Linked DNA regions of Homo sapiens: region 2 is reported to be linked to region 1. Evidence: microRNA targets listed by miRTarBase, many of them from high-throughput screens and not tested one by one. Region 1 holds a microRNA gene; the other region holds the end of a gene's coding sequence.
What was found. Region 1 holds the annotated microRNA hsa-miR-6759-3p (UGACCUUUGCCUCUCCCCUCAG, at 2,873-2,894, opposite strand). A microRNA usually pairs through its seed, bases 2 to 8, with sites in the 3' UTR of a target mRNA and lowers its output. Matches are read on the target gene's strand: a 7mer-m8 pairs with bases 2 to 8, a 7mer-A1 pairs with bases 2 to 7 and ends in A, and an 8mer does both.

Region 1 (4,176 bases):
TGGTGAGCTTGTTGCTCATTGGAGTGGCTGCTTGGGGCAAGGGCCTGGGTCTGGTGTCCAGCATCCACATCATCGGCGGAGTCATTGCTGTGGGAGTCTTCCTTCTCCTTATTGCAGTGGCTGGACTGGTGGGTGCTGTCAACCACCACCAAGTCCTGCTGTTCTTTGTATCCTGACCTGAAGTGATGGGGGCAACCGGGGGCTTGGGAGGGCTGTCATCTAAGGAAGATGTTAGAAGGGTAGGGGACCTCAGGGATCTTGGACACGTCTCCTTGCCCTGCCCTGTCCCATAATCTACGAAACAAGAGCTGATTTTATTGCTTTCAATTTGACATGGTGGTGTAAGTTCTATGAACAGATGAGACCAGACAGTTATTATAGATGAAACATAAAGGAATCTAGGACTTTTTTCCATAACCTTTCCTCTCAGTACATGATCATCCTTGGTTTGGTCTTCATCTTCCAATTTGTAATCTCTTGCTCATGTCTGGCTATTAACCGAAGCAAACAGGTAAGACAGTACCCTTTCAAGTACTTACTTGCTTTTTAAAATTTTCCTCTTAACCTCGAACTCCTTCCTTAGTCTGGCCCCAACTACCCAAAGATCATCCTTAGGTGCACTGCTTCTGGCCTCTTGGGCTATTTGCTTCCTCTGGGATGTCTGGTTAATTTTCCATGAGGATGATCTAGAGAACCTCAAAAGGTAGATATTTATCGTGTCTATAATTGTTGCACACCGTTATGCTTCTGTTTGACTTCCTTTGCTGGGCTAGGGAAATTGAGGCACTTGAACTGATAACAGGATGTAGGGAGACTTAATTTCCCTCTACCCATATCTTTCAGACAGATGTCATCAATGCTTCTTGGTGGGTCATGAGCAACAAGACTCGGGATGAACTGGAAAGAAGTTTTGATTGTTGTGGCTTATTCAACCTCACAACCCTGTATCAACAAGATTATGATTTCTGCACTGCAGTGAGTGTGTTGGGGGTGGTGCAGCAGCCAGGGGAGGTAGGAAACTGGGTAAGGACAATGCCCAAGTTGGCAAATTTAGTTTGAATGTCATTGTTTCTCTCTCTACAAGCCCTCTTGTATTGGGGCTGTGTTGGTGGGAGGTGGGGGTGGATAGAGGCTGGGGAATTAGCCAAGTAGGATTTTAGTTTGTAGGACACTGGTCAGATAACAGTAAAGTTTCTAGGGACATTCGGCATAGGTATTAGTCACTAGCAACTTTACATTCACAACTTTGCATTCTTCACGTTTTATCCTCAGATCTGCAAGAGCCAGAGCCCCACATGCCAGATGTGTGGAGAAAAGTTTCTTAAGCATTCAGACGAAGCCCTGAAAATCCTAGGGGGTGTTGGACTCTTCTTTAGCTTTACAGAGGTAACATTCTCCAGTTCCCTCACACACATCCTTTTTGAGACTGAGAATTAATTGATACTTATCTCTCTCCCTTTGTTCCTACAGATCCTTGGTGTTTGGCTAGCAATGAGATTTCGGAATCAGAAGGATCCTAGAGCCAACCCCAGTGCCTTTCTATGAGACTTTGGATCCTTCTGACTTTTCTTCTGCTCTCTCTAAGCTTTCTCTTCCTCCCTTAGGGAATATCTAGGGTCTGTAACCGTTTTGGTTTGAGAAAAAGGAAAGGCCCCTTGTCACATCCTCTAAAATTGATGGAATAGCAAGACTTTATGCCTTGACATATTTTAGTGGGAGCCAGACTATAAGGAATAAAAGGAAAAACTTTCTTCCTCTCTCTCCAAGAGGATATGGGAAGCTTCTGTGAGTGCATAGGATGGGGGCTGGAGTCATTCTTAGCTGTTTCCCTTCCTCTGTCCATATACTGGATCACCTCAACATACCCTGGTGTGGCTCTAAGGGTAAATCAGGGATAGGGCCAAGGAGAAAACAACCAAGAACTCTTTCCTGTAATAAGCAGGATCCAGTTTGAGAAAGTTTAGCGAATATAAAAGTAAAAGCCATTTAAAAATCTATATTCTTTTTTTTTTTTTGACACAGAGTCTTGCTCTGTTGCCCAGGCTGGAGTGCAATGGCATGATCTCGGCTCACCGCAACCTCTGCCTCCCGGGTTCAAGCGATCCTCCTGCCTCAGTCTCCCAAGTAGCTGGGATTACAGGTGTGCACCACCACGCCTGACTAATTTTGTATTTTTAGTAGAGACAGGGTTTCACCATGTTAGTCAGGCTGGTCTCGAACTCCTGACCTCAGGTGATCCACCCGCGTTGGCCTCCCAACGTGCTGGGATTATAGGCGTGAGCCACCACGCCCCGCCTAAAATCCATATTCAAAGAAGCAATTTCAGTTCCTTTCTAAGCTTTGTCAGTCAAGGGGCTCCACTGACTTCCTAGGCCCTGTAATTTAACCAGTCTTTAAGGTTTTGCAGGAAAGTCCCTTCTTCCAAGTGGTTTTTCCAAATCGCACAATGGCAAAGCCAAACAGAGGAAGAAACATTAAAAAAAAAAAAAAGACCATTATTTCTTTGTTTTGTTTTTCCTGTATAAAAAAGGACCCCAAATATAAAGGTAGGGAAAGGGACAAGAGGGAACATACCCCTTAGTGTAGAGAAATGGGAAGGAGAAGGAGAAGCCTCAAAAGGAGAGGTGGGAGGGGAATGTCATTAAGGCAGCAAAGTAATCTCTGTAGAAAGATGGAGGAGGACCCTCCATAGCCTCAGAGATAAAGGCAAAGATTGCCCTCTCAGTGTCCAGAAGGGAAATGGCAGCTTTTCTTCCTTCCATGGCAGCCACTCCATTGCTCACTCCGGATTACCTTCATCCTTATGTAGATAAGAGTGCTGCAGAGCTCGAAAGGCAGAGATTCGCTTGTGTGGGTTAAAAGTCAGCATTTCCTGAGGGGAGAGGCAAAGGTCAGAAAACCATGAAGAAAACAGACTTCTGCCCACCCACAACAATACCTGGGATGAGCTTTCTTCTTTTTTCTTTTTTTTTTTTTTTGAGACGGAGTCTCGCTCTATCACCCAGGCTGGAGTGCAATGGTATGATCTCAGCTCACTGCAACCTCCGCCTCCTGAGTTGAAGTGATTCTCCTATCTCAGCCTCCCAAGTAGCTGAGATTACAGGCGTGTGCCACCACCCCCGGCTTATTTTTGTACTTTTAGTAGAGACGAGGTTTCACCATGTTGGCCAGGCTGGTCTCGAACTCCTGACCTCAGGTGATACGCCCACCTTGGCCTCCCAAAGTGCTGGGATTACAGGCGTGAGCCACCGTGCCCAGCCAGGATGGGTTCTCTTCTATATCCTTCTCTGTGGGTGGCTATTTGCAGCTGTAATAAAAACTACAGCCCATCTACCAACCAAGTTTCATTAACCACAGTGGCCAGGGCCCTGCATACTGCTCTATTTCTTTCCCCAGTCTCTATTTCTTTCCCTGTGCCCACAGCCATCTCCAGTACCAGCAGCAGCTGTGCTCCCGACTCCTCCATCTCAGGTACCACCGACTGCACTGGGCGGGGCCCTCTGGGGGGAAAGGCTCCACGGGGCAGGGATACATCTCGAGGCCAGTCATCCTCTGGAGGCAGCCCAATCAGGCTGTGGGGGACAGGAGAACTCTGGTCAGGAGGGTCCTCCAGTTCCCATCCCCATGGGCAGAGCCAGTTGCCATCCTGGGTTCAGCAGAAAGAGGACTCAGAATAGAAAATCTTTTTCTCCCATGTTGGTCACTTACTCAAAGATTTTGCCCAACTGGTCGGCTTCAGAGTTTCCACAGAAGAGAGGCCTAAGGTGAGAAGGGATATAAGGTAGCAGTCATTTTCAAAGATATCTTAGTTGAATGGTTACTGCTTAGTGGCTCAAAATAGGAAGTATAGGGAATAAAGGCCAACAATTCCAGCACTTTGGGATGCTGAGGTGAGAGGACTGCTTGAGCCCAGGAGTTCTAGATCAGCCTGGGCAAGCAAGACCTTGTCTCTTTTTTTAAAAAAAAAGAAATGCCAGGTGCAGCGGCTCACGCCTGTAATCCTAGCACTTTGGGAGTCTGATGTGGGTGGATCATGAGGTCAAGAGATCGAGACCATCCTGGCCAACATGGTGAAACCCTGTCATTACTAAAAGTACAAAAATTAGCTGAGCATGGTGGCGTGCACCTGTGGTCCCAGCTACTTGGGAGGCTGAGTCAAGAGAATTGCTTGAATCT
Region 2 (4,000 bases), not on the chromosome of region 1:
AGGTAGTTCATGTGATATCTTCCACAGACAAGAGGGGAGATGCTCCTTCCATCATTTAGGTTGGGACTTAGTATCTCCAGCAGTGTGGACAGGATGTAAAGAAAATTCATTACGAAGAGAAATAGCAACTGAAAAATCTCTTCTACCTCAGGTGATGTGATTGGGAGAAAGTAAACATAGAATGATGACAGTTGAGGACATTTGTGTTTCATGACCTTTTTTTTTTTTTCTTTACCTAGACTAAGATCTCAAGGTAGGAGTCTTGTTAGAGAACTTAAAATAAAATCCAGAGTCACAGGGTTTTTTTTTCTATATTGCATTTGGAACTCCAGAAGGAAACTGTCTTTCAGTGTTCCCTCCATATCAAAAAGGGGCAACAGCCACACCTGAGTCAGATTGATAAATGTCATTGCTGTGTGGAGAAAGGATCTGAATTTAGTGCCCCAGAGTCTCTTTCAGCTTCTGTGTGGTATAGAAGTTTTGTAGAAGTTCTTGCATGCTCTGTGGAAATACAGGAAGGTGACAGACAGTGTTAGAGAATCATCATGATGCATGCTGAGAGTTGCAGAGTAGGGAATCGTGAACACGGTCATAGTGATTATAGAAAAAAATCAAGAAGCAACATTGTCTTTCAGATCTGAGTACAGTAAATGTGTGAGCCCTTACACTCTTGTAAGAATATATAAATAACATCCTTTCCTATACACATTTGTTTAAACTAGCCCTGATAAGTTATCTCTGCTAAAGCATGTCAGAAAGGGCCTGCTCTTACTCCTCCTTTTCCCAATTAAGTTTGACTGAGACAAGCACAGTTATGTTTGAGTGCCCTGGGCCTCTGCAGGTCTCTATTCTGATGGCTCATATCTGCTCAGATTTTGGCAGCTCATCTAGGGCATTGTCTTAGTTCATTTTCTGAGGCTTAAAACAGAACCTGGGTAATTTATAAAGAAAAAGAATTAATTTCTTACAGTTAGGCAGGCTGAGAAGTCTGAGGTTGAGAGGCCATATCTGGGATGGCCTTCTTGTTGGTAAGAGCTGTCAGGTAAGTCCCAAGGTAACACATAGCATCACATGACCAGGGGACATACGGTGCACCCTGAGCATGCTAGCTTAGGTCACTCTTCCTTCCTTTTCATATAAAGTCACCAGTCCCCCACTCATAATAATCCATTAATCCATGAATGGATTAATCCATTCAGGAGGGCACAGACCTCATGGCCCAATCACCTCTTAAGGGCCCTGCCTCTCAGTACTGCTACATTAGGAGTTAAGTTTCAACATGAGTTTTCGAGGGAAAAAAATATTCAAACCACAGCAGCCATAGTGGCCTGAACACCATTTTTAAATGCAGCTATGAAGGGGTAGCCCCGGGAAACATACATGTCTCTTCTATGAGTCAATACTTAATCAAGTCCAGCTATGCCATTGAGAAGAGAGTATTCAACTTTCACTTTCCTCTTGTCCATGCATGACTCTAGACACAGTCTGCCTATTGGTAGCACCTCGTTGTTACTGGAAGATTGGCAAGCTAGGCTGCAAAAGGTCCTTTGATCTTTTCCACTGGTTGACACCCACATTTAACTTAACAGGCCAAGCTGTGCATTGGCGATAAAGGTTTAGGTAACTCTACTTCTACACTGATTTCAATAAGGTGTGAATTCAAAAGACCTAACAGGGCTGTATGTGTGTTTCACAGCCTCTCTATGTCTCTATCTTCACCTCTAGAACTGCAGAAATCTATAGCTCTCTCTTTAGAATTAGAGACAATGGCAGGTGTAAGAAGAAATAAAGGAGTGGAATTTTATTTTTGTGTTTAAGTATTTTAGTGATATAGGAAATGTAAAATCAAAAAGTCCATTCAGGTTGTACTTGATATATTCTAAAGCCACACTATAGTGAGAGGAAATAAAGTTTATTTAAATTCAGTTTGTCAAAGTACAAATATCTTTGTACAACTTACGTTCTTCTTTCTTAAAACTTAAAAGCTAGTAGTATATTTTATAAGCATTTCTCCAGATTTTGATTTCACAATCCACAATAAAAAGACTGTTTAAAAGAACTTATTTGTAGAAATTCTAAAGTTGTGCATTTACTTGAAAAGTTACTTTCACAAAGGGTTTTTCAATATTTCATCTTAGTTGTATAATTAAACAGAATAAATGGAAGAATTACACATAAAATACTATTCAACTAGCCATTTTTGTTATTTTAAAACTTAACAAGTCTTTTTTTTTTTTTATATAGCACACATATCCTAACATTTTCTACTGGATAATATAACAGTAACAGAAAAGCATGTGTTGGTACAAAAAAGATAACTATAGAATTGACCAGGCTTATTGAATATTTTGGTGTTCCCATGTGTTAACACTGAGTAACATCCTCAATTTTAAGGTACTTTAAAAATTGTTTTGTTTTTGAAAACTTGTTTAACTTAACGATATTTGTTTATAGAGTTAACATAAATGTTTGAGGAGAACATTACATTCTATACAAGTGAGGCCCTGACACTCTGAAGCTGAGGTCACAGTTTGTATCAATATGATAAATATTCATTATTTCATTGTATAGACTGTGTATATGAAATTACAGTAATATTTTACTGGTAACAAATCTAACAAGATAATATGTTAAGAAATACCAAATTTATATGTGTGCTCTGGCAGATGAGCAAACCTGTAAAAATTTTGACATACCGCGATCAACATAACAAGTTTTGTCAAAGAGCCATTATTTTTTTAGCTTCAACACAGTAAAAGCTTTCCTCTTGGTAAATGTAAGGAATTGTTTAGCTCTTTGGGATATTATTTGAATAGGAGAATAATGGCTTACTAAAAATCACACTATTCTAAGCTTTAGATGTTACCTTTTATATTTCTATGTTCCAGATAATAAGAGTACGTTTTTTAAAAAAAAACTGAAAATGTTTTTAACTTTTAAGGCTCTTACCTTGAAATGTATTAATGCTTTTATAACCTGCACACTGTGGCCACCATCAATTTTCATTAAATATTTTAGCATTTTGTAGTAATGGGGCTATATCTAGACTGTGGGATTTCCTTTTATATTATCAGCTGCGAAAGCACATATGCTTAATAATTCATATGTAATTCATGTTTAAAAACGTTTCGGCTTCACGAATGAAAGCAATTGTAACTACAAATTAAAATGATACAACAATTTTCCAGTCTGATTATTAATTGCAGGAAAAAGAACATGTATTTCTTTCTCCCTTTGTCCTACTCAGTTTCTTGAAATTATCTAGTTTCATTCCATTTGATAAAGATAGATAGCTTTAGGGTAGCTTCACCACTACAACACATGCACCAGCTCTTCCAATGTTAACAGGAACTTCCTAAAACACAAAATAAGAAACAAAACACTGTTGGAACTCTGATTTCAGCATAATATAAAATATTATATTCAATATAGTTGAAGAAGTCCTTACTTAATTTGGTCTAACATCACCTTGTCTAAAGATGAGATAATCTGCAGCCTAGAAAACAGTGTAGTGTGCTGGAAAAAACATAGCCTTTAGAATGGTAAAAACCTGAGTTTGAGGATCAGGTGATCTTAAGTAAATTTCATCTCTCTGATAATATTCTCACTTGAAAAATTACACCAAATTATACTAACACGTCAAGGTTTTTGTGATGATTGAGTGAAATAATGAATGACAATTTGCACTTAGTAGTTATAATCCCACCATCTGTTAGTTCTCTTTCACTCTTTTCAAGATCACACGATGAAACAGTGACACAGCCAAAAATATAATCCAGGACTCTTAGCTACTTGTCTACAATCTTCAGAAAAATAAATCCCGTAAGCTGGTCAAACATCTTGATTATTGTATTTGTCCTAACACCTTGCATGATATTTTTTTTCCTTCGATTTCTGGTTGGTCCTAAGCATTGACAAAACAGCAGCTACCTACATTGTAGCATTTGAGGGTTTCTGAGTCTTAATGAATCAGATTATTGGAGGAGAGAGATTAAAATCT

Region 2: miRTarBase lists KLHL4 as a target of hsa-miR-6759-3p. Seed matches in the 3' UTR shown: 8mer at 212-219.

Annotation. Positions count from the first base shown.
Region 1 is chr12:57,745,746-57,749,921 of GRCh38, forward strand. MIR6759 (microRNA 6759) reads right to left here and starts at 2,937; the gene lies at 2,873-2,937. It overlaps TSPAN31 (tetraspanin 31), which reads left to right. Exons shown (of 6, transcript NM_005981.5): 2 at 1-167; 3 at 431-511; 4 at 844-975; 5 at 1,273-1,386; 6 at 1,471-4,176. The coding sequence ends at 1,545. CDK4 (cyclin dependent kinase 4) reads right to left here. Exons shown (of 8, transcript NM_000075.4): 6 at 3,709-3,759; 7 at 3,437-3,572; 8 at 1,982-2,872. The coding sequence ends at 2,780. RefSeq lists an enhancer at 25-104.
Region 2 is chrX:87,665,830-87,669,829 of GRCh38, reverse strand. It overlaps KLHL4 (kelch like family member 4), which reads right to left. Exons shown (of 11, transcript NM_019117.5): 11 at 1-3,355. The coding sequence ends at 3,296. Among named protein-coding and RNA genes, the nearest start is that of KLHL4, 150 kb to the right of the region's middle.